Regions from separate parts of the Homo sapiens genome. Here region 1 is linked to region 2. The links come from fine-mapping of genetic effects on gene expression. A gene starts in region 2. The other region holds a variant in brackets. All regions are shown on one strand. Distances are from middle to middle.

Evidence for each region. PIP is the estimated chance that this variant, and not a neighbour inherited with it, causes the effect. A credible set is the group of variants that fine-mapping cannot tell apart.
Region 1: its variant is the best candidate, but not a certain one, in a credible set for the expression of WRN in whole blood (TOPMed, PIP 0.63).

What each region holds. Positions count from the first base shown.
Region 1 is chr8:31,128,082-31,133,081 of GRCh38, forward strand. It overlaps WRN (WRN RecQ like helicase), which reads left to right. Exons shown (of 35, transcript NM_000553.6): 24 at 4,284-4,425. It also overlaps the pseudogene SUMO2P16. Among named protein-coding and RNA genes, the nearest start is that of WRN, 97 kb to the left of the region's middle. The variant A/G (reference allele first, on the strand shown) is at 1,988.
Region 2 is chr8:31,031,265-31,036,789 of GRCh38, forward strand. WRN (WRN RecQ like helicase) reads left to right here and starts at 2,546. Exons shown (of 35, transcript NM_000553.6): 1 at 2,546-2,709. PURG (purine rich element binding protein G) reads right to left here and starts at 2,092. Exons shown (of 2, transcript NM_001323311.2): 1 at 1,814-2,092; 2 at 1-1,524. The coding sequence starts at 1,518. The coding sequence ends at 475. RefSeq lists silencers at 2,074-2,123, 2,284-2,543, 3,514-3,583 and enhancers at 2,299-2,820, 3,654-3,703.

The DNA of each region.
Region 1 (5,000 bases), 97 kb after region 2:
TTAAAAAAAAAAACAAACTTAAAAATCCAGCAAATACATAAAGCACAAAGCCGACAGAAGAGGTGGAGAAATCAACAAATCCACCATCAAAGTGGGAGAATTTGATATAATTTTAAGTTATTGGTAGGGTAAACAATCCAAAAATTAGTACACTGTAGAAAATTTGGTCAACATAGTAATAAGTTTGCTTATTACTATTTATCAGTATACATAGTATACTGATTTATCAGATACATAGTATATGGAGCCCTAGAGCAAGCAACTATAGCAGTGTATCTCAAGTATTTTTACTTCATGACCCACATAGCAAATGATATGTGTATATAACACACTGGGCTAATTGTCAGAGTTCAGTTTCTGTCCAAAACCCTAAGATCTGGAGTGATTAACCTTTCAGCACTCTTAGAACTCACTTGTTTGTAGCACACTGATTGAGAAGCACTGAAAGACTTCACTCCTCAAACATACATGGAATATTTCTAAAAACTATGTATTGGGCCGGGTGCAGTGGCTCATGCCTGTAATCCCAGCACTTTGGGAGGCCGAGGCGGGTGGATCCCGAGGTCAGGAGATCGAGACCATCCTGGCTAACATGATGAAACGCCGTCTCTACTAAAAATACAAAAAATTAGCCGGATGTGGTGGCGAGTGCCTGTAGTCCCAGCTACTCGGGAGGCTGAGGCAGGAGAATGGTGTGAACCCAGGAGGCGGAGCTTGCAGTGAGCCGAGATCGCGCCACTGCACTCCAGCCTGGGCAACAGAGCGAGACTCTGTCTCAAAAAAAACCAACCAACTGAACAAACAAAAAAACTAAAAAACAAAAACAAAAAAACTATGTATTAGAGCATGGGTTGGCAAACTATGGCCTGTAGGCCAAATCTGCATGCTGTTTTATTTTTTTTTATTTTTTTGACATAGGGTCACTACAGGCTGTCACACAGGCTGGAGAGCAGTGGTATGATCATAGCTCACTGTAACCTCAAATTCCTGGGCTCAAGCAATTCTCTTGCCTCACCTCAGCTTCCCAAGTAGCTACAGGCATGCACTACCAGACCCAGTTAATTAAAACAAATTTTTTTTTGGTAGAGACAGTCTCAGTATGTTGCCCAGGCTGGTTTTCAAACTCCTTGCCTCAATCAGTCCTCCTACTTCAGCCTCCTAAAGTGCTGGGATTATAGGCATGAGCCATCACGCTTGACTAATGTTTTTGTAAATAAAGTTTTCTCAGAACACAGCCATGCCTTTTGTTTATGTGTTATGTAGGGCTGCCTGAGTTAAGTAGTTGGCTGCAAAGCCTATCATGGCCTATAAAGCCTGAAATACTTACTATCTGGTCCTTTATAGAAAGTGTTTTCTGACCCTGTACTAGACTAGCTTGTCTCAAAATTCTTCAATGAATTTGGAAGTTTTCTCACCACATTTTCTGACCATAATGCACTTGAGTTAGAAGTAAATAAGCAGATAAACAACAAAATCCTCATGCATTTGGAAATTAAAAATAACACTTAAATAATTCATATTCAAAGAAAAAATCAAACTGGAAATTAAAAAAAATTTTAAACCTACAGATAACTACATTAATATGCATTAACATTTTTAGAACTTAGGGATAGTTACAATGATATACATTAAAACTGGTAAGAGGCTGGGTGCGTTGGCTCACGCCTGTAATCCCAGCACTTTGGGAGGCCGAGGCTGGGGGATCACGAGGTCAAGAGATTGAAACCATCCTGGCCAACATGGTGAAACCCCGTCTCTACTAAAAATACAAAAATCAGCTGGGCGTGGTGGCACGCGCCTGTAGTCCCAGCTACTTGGGAGGCTGAGGCAGGAGAATCGCTTGAACCTGGGAGGCGGAGGTTGCCGTGAGCCGAGATTGGGCCACTGCACTCCAGCCTGGCGACAGAGCGACACTCTTGTCTCAAAAAAAAAACAAAACAAAACAAAAAAAAAAACTAGTAAGAGGGCCCAGTGGCTCACACCTGTC[A/G]TTCTAGCTCTTTGGGAGACTGAGGAGAGAGGATCAGTTGAGGCCAGGATTCAAGACCAGTCTGGGCAACATAACGAGACCGCATCTCTACAAAATTTTAATAACAACAACAAAAAAAACTGGTAAGAGGCAACATTGAATAGTACTTTGTGGGAGTTTATTAGCTTGAAATACTCATAATAGAAAAGAAAATTAATCAGCTAAGCATCTCACTAAAGAGATTAGGAGAATAAACCTAAGCATAGTTTTTTTCCCCCAAACATTATTATATCTGGAATATTGAATGCATTCTTATTGCTATTTCAAAGATACTTACTCTAAGGAAAGCAATTGAATTAGGTAGTTGAACTCTATAGTAGATTTTCTTTAATGAGTCCTTTTGTTCTCAACCTACTTAAATAATTCTCATTTGAATTTATGATAGTTTCAGATCTACCCAAAGGGTGACTTAGGAATTTAACTTCTAAATCTATTTAAATGAAAGGTTTATAATCTTTTTGTCATATTTTACAGTCGTTAGCGTTTAACAATTTATAGCATAGGATTTGGGTTTTTTTTTTTTTTTCATTTTAAAGAAGAAGTTTATTTAAGCAAGACACTTGACTAAGGGAAGACTATCTTGGAGTTATTATTACTAGAGTAATTTATTTCTACTTAAAGACAGATTGCCCCACAAGTAACAGCTACATAAAAACAGTTGTAAAATTGTCCTTGGTTTTACAATGATAAATGAAAAACATTAAAATTCTCTAATTGAACAAGGTATGCAAGGATTTTTATATTGTTTTTTGCTAAAACTATGACAGCAAAATAACATCCTGGAGTATAAAGATAAGAGCTGAATGAGCAGGCCACTAGGGGACAAAGGGAGTCTTTTCACAGAACCAATGCTTCTTTTGCCCACCCCATCTCCATCGAAGTCAATCTAAACATATTATTGGCCATTTAGTTAAAAAAAGAAAGAAAAGAAAAGCAATATGCTTGTGGACATACACCAGTTACTTTATGTGCAGTAAAAGAGTAGGAAGGGGAAGGTGAAAGAATAGAGAAAACTATGTAGTCAGGATGTGGTGGAACCAAATTGCAACTTTCTTTTTTTTTGAGACAGAGTTTTGCTCTTGTCACCCAGGCTGGAGTGTAGTGGTGGCCCAATCTTGGCTCACTGCAACCTCCGCCTCTCAGATTCAAGCCATTCTCCTGCCTCAGCCTTCTGAGTAGCTGGGATTACAGGTGCATGCCACCATGCCTGGCTAATTTTTGTATTTTTAGTAGAGATGGGTTTTCACCATGTTGGCCAGGCTGGTCTTGAATGCCTGACTTCAAGTGATCCACCCGCCTCAGCCTCCCAAAGTGCTGGGATTACAGGCGTGAGCCACTGCGCCTGGCCAAATTGTAGCTTTCTAATTGAGACTGTCTTCTTGGTCTGGAAGAGCAGAGTTCTGCAGTAAAATAACAGGTCCCCCTTTTAGTAGACATCTCCATGTCTGCTGCTGGAACACATCAGTTTTGTCTTAAGCCTCACTTCCAAATGTGCAGATGTGTCTGGTTCATTGATTGGCTGCCTGTCAAATTGAAACCTGATCTGCCTCATTGGCAAACCGTGCCCCTTACAATAGGCTTTCATTGGTTTACTAAGCGGTGTGGTGCGTGGCTGTTCATCTTAAACTGCACCACAGTTTAAGATGAACCTTCAAATGAACATTATCCTTGTTCTCAGTCTTGACTTTCCTTGGGCTTTTTGTGGACCCTGGTGAGTGTGGCAGTCTCCTCAGCTGCTGCTTCACAAAAGAGGTACCAGGTCTGCCCCGAATGAGTGAGCCCCTAAACAGGACCAGGAGTGGCAGAAGAAAGAGGCAGCAACTGAGATGTGTTTTTTCTAAGCTGAAAGGCTTTTTTTTTTTTTTTTTTTGCAACACACCTTTAACACTAAAGTCCAATATTTATATAATTGGTCAAGTAAGTGGAGCTGTTCTAGCTATAAATATGGCAACTCTGCTTGCTCGTCCTATTATTGACATTATTCCTTTCTGTGGTCTGAGGTGCCTCCCATGAAACTTGCTTCTAGGACACTAGGATTGAGAACCATCAGCGTAACATATCTGTTACGCTACAATAGTTTATTTTCATATTTTAGCTACTTTACATACTCGGGTATAATGAACTTTATTCATAGCTTCTGAAGCAGTTGGCACATTTGAGATATTTTTTACTTGGCTAATTGTTATGCTAAATCTTTTGATTTCTAAAGATACATGCCTTTGCTAAGCTTTCTTCAAATGTTATTATTTTTATTTAGATTGGATCATTGCTATTCCATGGATGACTCAGAGGATACATCCTGGGACTTTGGTCCACAAGCATTTAAGCTTTTGTCTGCTGTGGACATCTTAGGCGAAAAATTTGGAATTGGGCTTCCAATTTTATTTCTCCGAGGATCTGTAAGTATATATCTGTGAATTCCCTTCATAGATCTTCTTTTACTTCTATTACACTTTTCTTCAGAGGTTTGCAGTATTATGATTGTAGCTTTGACTTCAGATGGGTGACTAGGAACTCATAGAGTCTTACTAAGTTCCAGTTAAACACTACATTCATTACTTTGGATAAAACCCGTGTGTATGGCATCTTCTGCTGTTTTCATGTTCAAGCCGATGTTCAGCTCTGCAGCTCAGTCTGGAAGCATTGTGTTAATTTATCACATTGCATTTGGGTGAATCCCTAGACTAGTCTTGCTTAGGATAATTAGGAAAAGTTAACTTTCATTGTATCAAGGGACAGGTAGAACAAAATTGTCCTTTTGTCCAGGAAACCATTAAATTCTTCAAGGAAAACTTTAGTTATAGGGATTATTTTTTAAATGTCTAATTTCAGTAACAATATTTGGGACATATTTATTTTTCCTTCTGTTTCCTATCAGAAGTATTTAAAGTTATAAGAAAATTGTGGTTTTTGCCTTTACTAATGAATAAATAATCAATTAAATTCAGTTACTTTTTTTTGGAGTGATTGATGT
Region 2 (5,525 bases):
AAGTAAATATTTATATATACCGGAGGTCAATTTCTGTTTCTGTGGTAACTGCCCTACAGGTAAGCTTAGCAGCTTTTAATGAAGTAGAATTGAAATACTTTTGGGGGAAAGTCACACTTCTATTTAAGTATATGTATCTTTTTTCGGGATTATGTCATAGTGCAATGTAAATCTTAGTTATGGTATTTAGAATGTCAGAATGTCACATTTTGTGCTGATTTGCATACTTCAATAGTCTGGAGCAGTTGAAGCAGCTAAACTATTTAGCTCTGGGAAGGTTGGAATTCCCGTAAGAATTATAGTGATCTATGTGTAACATAACATGAGAATCAGACTTCCTGAAGTATCAACTACTAGAGGTATTACTAATAACAACGGGCCAAAAAAGAGGAAAAACTTCTTCAAAGGATAATGGATCAGTACTTTTAGCCAATTTGTGATTTTAAATTTTGCCTGATGGAGTTCAATTTCACTCTAGTCGAGGCATTCTTGTTCTTCACCACTGGCCTTTCTGCCATCCATTCTCTTTTCTTTATGGCTGTTGCAAATTTTCCTCATCTCTTCTTCATACTTGATAAAATTCTCCCCAAACCTTGTCCAAGCTTTGAATGGAACAGTAATAGTATTACGGTAAGGTGGTCTCACCTCACTTACCTTCAGGAAAATTCCATATTTATTAGAGCCCACATCAAAGTAGAACCTTTTATTGTCCACTCTGAAAGAAGTCCCCTCTGGGAGTTCAAGCGGGTCATCGTCTCCACCTCTTCGTTCTTCTATGTCTCCTTCGCCATAGTCTTCAATCAGCTGAACCAAGGCATCACGAAACTCAATCATTCCTTGTGCTGGGAGGACAATAGTCTGTTCTTGGCCCAAACTGTGGCCAAAATAACCTATCATGCCAGTCCCCCGCATCATGGTTTGTCTAATCCGTAGGAAGCGACCCCGCTGATTTTCCTTTAGGTCTAGGTAATATTTCCTATTGTCCCTCTCGATATAGTCTGTTTTCAGGACACTGTGAGGATGCTCTTCGGACCCCACCGAGACTGGTGGGGAGGGTGCCGAGTGCTTCTGCCTCCTTCTGGAGCCTTGCTCTTTGCTGTGGCCATGCTCTTGCCGGTGGCCTTTCAGGCCCAGGTGGGCATAGTGCTCGATGAAGTCCCCTAGACAGTCCTTCAGCTCCGCTGCCACAGACAGGGAGAGGGTCAGTTTACTCTTTCTGATGTTGTCCTGCCGGCCTCTCCCTATCCAGACTTCGGCTATCTTTAGGAAGCGGCCCCGGGAGCTTTGCTTCACGTCTAGGTAAAACCTCTTTTTCTGGATGTCCACTCGTTTGGAGGCCAGCTCCTGGATTTCGGCTGCGCCCCCGGCCTGATTAGGGGTGGCTGAGGCCGCGTAGTGGGGGTAGTGGGAGTGCTGGGCCTGGGGATAGAGTCTACTCTTGCTTAGGCCAGAGCCCCCTACATTCTTGCCTCCGCGGCCGCGGCCGCCGCCGCCTCCCCTTCGCCTGGCTCTTTCCATCTTCAGCTGCAAGTAACAAACAGACACACGGGATGGGGTGGGGGAGGGGTGTTGAGAACAATCGCAGACGCCCCTCGGCCTGACCGCCCCGCCGCCGCCCGCGACCCCCACGCCGGGCCCGGCTCCCCCGGCGCCGCAGCGCGGGGCTCCAGCCACTGCCGGCCGGTTGGCGGCCGCCGCTCCGGCTCTGCCCGCGCTCCCCGCATCCCTCCGCCGCCCCCGGGGCCGCTCCCGCACGCCGCCGCCGCCCGTCCCGCGCTCCGCGGCCCCAGGTCTCCAGCCGGCGGGCACTCACATCATCTCTGCCATCACCGCCGCCGCCGATGCCCTTCACGACCACCGCCGCCGCCACCGCCAGCTCTCGGCCCCTCTGCTGCAGCCGCCGCAGCCGCCGCCCCCCGCCTCCTCCCCCGCCGCCGCCGCTCGCACTGCCCCCCGCCGGAGCAGCCGGGCAGGGGCATCGCCCGCGGCGCCCACCGCAGCCGCCCCTCCTGCGGCCGCTGCGGGGGCCGCCGCCTGACTTCGGACACCGGCCCCGCACCCGCCAGGAGGGGAGGGAAGGGGAGGCGGGGAGAGCGACGGCGGGGGGCGGGCGGTGGACCCCGCCTCCCCCGGCACAGCCTGCTGAGGGGAAGAGGGGGTCTCCGCTCTTCCTCAGTGCACTCTCTGACTGAAGCCCGGCGCGTGGGGTGCAGCGGGAGTGCGAGGGGACTGGACAGGTGGGAAGATGGGAATGAGGACCGGGCGGCGGGAATGTTCTCACTTCTCCGGATTCCACCGGGATGCAGGACTCTAGCTGCCCAGCCGCACCTGCGAAGAGACTACACTTCCCGAGGTGCTCAGCGGCAGCGAGGGCCTCCACGCATGCGCACCGCGGCGCGCTGGGCGGGGCTGGATGGGCTGTGGTGGGAGGGTTGCAGCGCCGCGAGAAAGGCGAGCCGGGCCGGGGGCGGGGAAAGGGGTGGGGCAGGAACGGGGGCGGGGACGGCGCTGGAGGGGCGGGTCGGGTAGGTCTCCCGGAGCTGATGTGTACTGTGTGCGCCGGGGAGGCGCCGGCTTGTACTCGGCAGCGCGGGAATAAAGTTTGCTGATTTGGTGTCTAGCCTGGATGCCTGGGTTGCAGGCCCTGCTTGTGGTGGCGCTCCACAGTCATCCGGCTGAAGAAGACCTGTTGGACTGGATCTTCTCGGGGTAAAGTGTCTTCCTATTCCCGTTTTCCCAGCTCCGTGCCCCGGGGTATCTATAGTGCTAGGCTTCTGAGACACGTGGAGGCGCTTAGGCCCGCGGAGCAGGCCCCTGGGCTGTGTTTGGGAGATTCTGGAAAAACAGACTTTCTCCCTTTTCCTTTCCCCTCTGGAGCAGCTGGGAAAGGCGTCTCTCGGAGCTTCCGCCATTCAGAAAGTGTTTCCCCGCCCCTGACGGCCCCAGCTTGATGTTTACCTTGCGCGCTTAGTTAGGATTGCTCTTTCTAGTACGGCCTTTATTATGGCAGAAATTGAGCCACTACAGGTCTGCACAGCAAAGTCGAGGGAAATAACCTGCTGTCTATGATTTAGCAAGTGATGATGGATATTTTTGAGTTCAAATCACTCAGTCTTTAATGGATTTTCTTTTCTTTTTTTCCTAGTTGAATCTCAGTTGTTCTCAGGCTAGGTTTGATATGAAAAATACTACTCCCTATTGAAGAGGGTAATATAATTCTTAGGATGCTAATACAGGAGTCTGTAAGTCGGAGTACTTCAGGCTTTTTATGGTTCGGTACATTTCTTTTTAGGGGTGGGATATTGGGATAAGTAGGACAGTTCAGATCTTGATGTCATTGAATAGTGGTGTCTACCTAAAAGGAAGAGGCTGGGGCACAAAATTATAATTTAAAGTGTTTACTTCAGCCAAAATGAGGACAGCTGCCCAGGACTCATTTCCCAGTTGCCTTGGGGAGTGCTCCTTCAGCCTTGGTTACAAGCAGGTTTTTAAAGGCGAAGGGGAAGAGTGGGCTGAGACAAAGTTGGTCAGGAATTGTTATTGGTTTACAGAGATACCATTGCTTAGTGATTGGCTGTACACTGTAACTCATAGGGTATGAGTTATCGTGTCCAGCATATGGCATTTTATGGCTTCTTGGTTCCAGTCTAGAGCCCATATAGCAGGTGGGCTTTAAGAGATAATTATCCAGCTCAGACCGGGAGTGAGACGGGACTGTTTTTTCATTCTAATGCCTCTCTGGGCCTGATAATTTAAAGGGGCTTGCATTCTTCAGCTAAAATTTTATTTTCTTTTATTTTTTTTCCCCCACAGTGGTCTCCCTTTATTAATCCAACAAATGTTTATTAAGGACTGCTCTAGGCACTAGAGATACCAACAATGAACAAAACAGACAAACATCTCTCTCCTTTTGGAGCTTACATTTTAGTGGAAAGAGACAGGCAAAAAGTAAAATTATAGGATGACAGAAGGTGAAAATAGAGATTAAAAAGGAAAGGGGGATGAAGAGTGTGTGTGTGTGTTGTGGGTGGGGGGCTGTAGGGAGCTGCAGTTTTACAATAAGTGGTCAGGGACGTCCTCGCTGAGAAGGGAATTTTTGAGTCCAGAGCTCAAGGAAGTGAGAGAACTTACCTTGACGTTCTCTGGAGGAGAAGAAAGTACAAAGGCCCTGGGGGAACCTGCCTCTTTATGTTCAGAGAGCAACTTAAGAGGCCTAGTGAGCTGGAGCAGAGCGGAGAGGAGGTCAGAGGTCAGGCCAGAAAGGGAAAGGGGCCAGAATGTGTAGGACTTTATGGGCTATATTGAAAATTGGGGCTTTCATTCTGAGGGAGATGGGAAGCTGTTGGAGAGTTGTTAGGGAAACGTGATCTGAATTATGTTTCTAAAAAATTGGAGTAAGATATCATAAAATTTGCCATCTTAGTCTTTTTTGTATCTGGCCAATTCCACTCAGAATTCTTTTTTAAACAGCTTTATTGAGATATAATTAATATATCATATGATTCACTCATTTAAAGTGTGCAATACAATGGTTTTTAGTTTGTCTTCAGAGTTGTACAACCTTTATCACAATTACCTTTAGGACTTTTTCATTACCCAAAAGAGAATCTCCATAACCATTAGTACTCAATCCCACCCGCTTTCCTAGCAATCACTTACCTATTTTTTTGTCTCTATATAGCTCTCAAACCCTATGATATTCCTTCTATCTAACTGTATTTTTGTACTCATTAACAGCCTCTCTTCATTCCCACCACCCATCCATCCCAGCCTCTGGTAATCACCATTCTACTTACTACCTCAATGACATCAAATTTTTTAGCTCCCACATATAAGTGAGAACATGCGATATTTGTCTTTCCCTGCCTGGTTTATTTCACTTAACAGAATGTCTTCCAGTTCCATTCATGTTGCTGCAAATGACAGGATTTCATTCTTTATTATGGCTTAATACTATTCCATTGTATATGTATATCACATTTTCTTTATCCACTCATCTGTTGATGGACAGTTAGCTTGATTCCATATTCTGGCTATTGTTGAATAGTGCTGCAGGAAACATGGAAGTGCAGATAGCTCTTTGACATACTGATTTCATTTCCCTTGAATATATACCCTGTAGTGGATTTGCTGGACCCGCTTGTAGTTCTACATTTAATATTTTGAGTTATTTCCATAATGTTAGTAATAATTTACATTCCCACCAACAGCGAGGAAGGAGTTCCCTTTTCTCCACATCCTCGCCAACACTTATCTTTTGTCTTTTTGGTAATAGCCATTCTAACAGGTGTGAGGTGATATCTCATTGTGATTTTGATTTACATTTCCCTGATGGTTATTGATGAGCAATGTTTCATATACTTGTTGGTTATTTGTATATCTCCTTTTGAGAAATGTCTATTCAGGTCTTTTGCTCATTTTTTAAATATGGTTTTTTAATTTTTTTATTTTTTTGCTATTGAGTTGTTTGACATCCTTAAACATTTTGGAAATTAACCTCTTATTAGATGTATAGTTTGCAAATA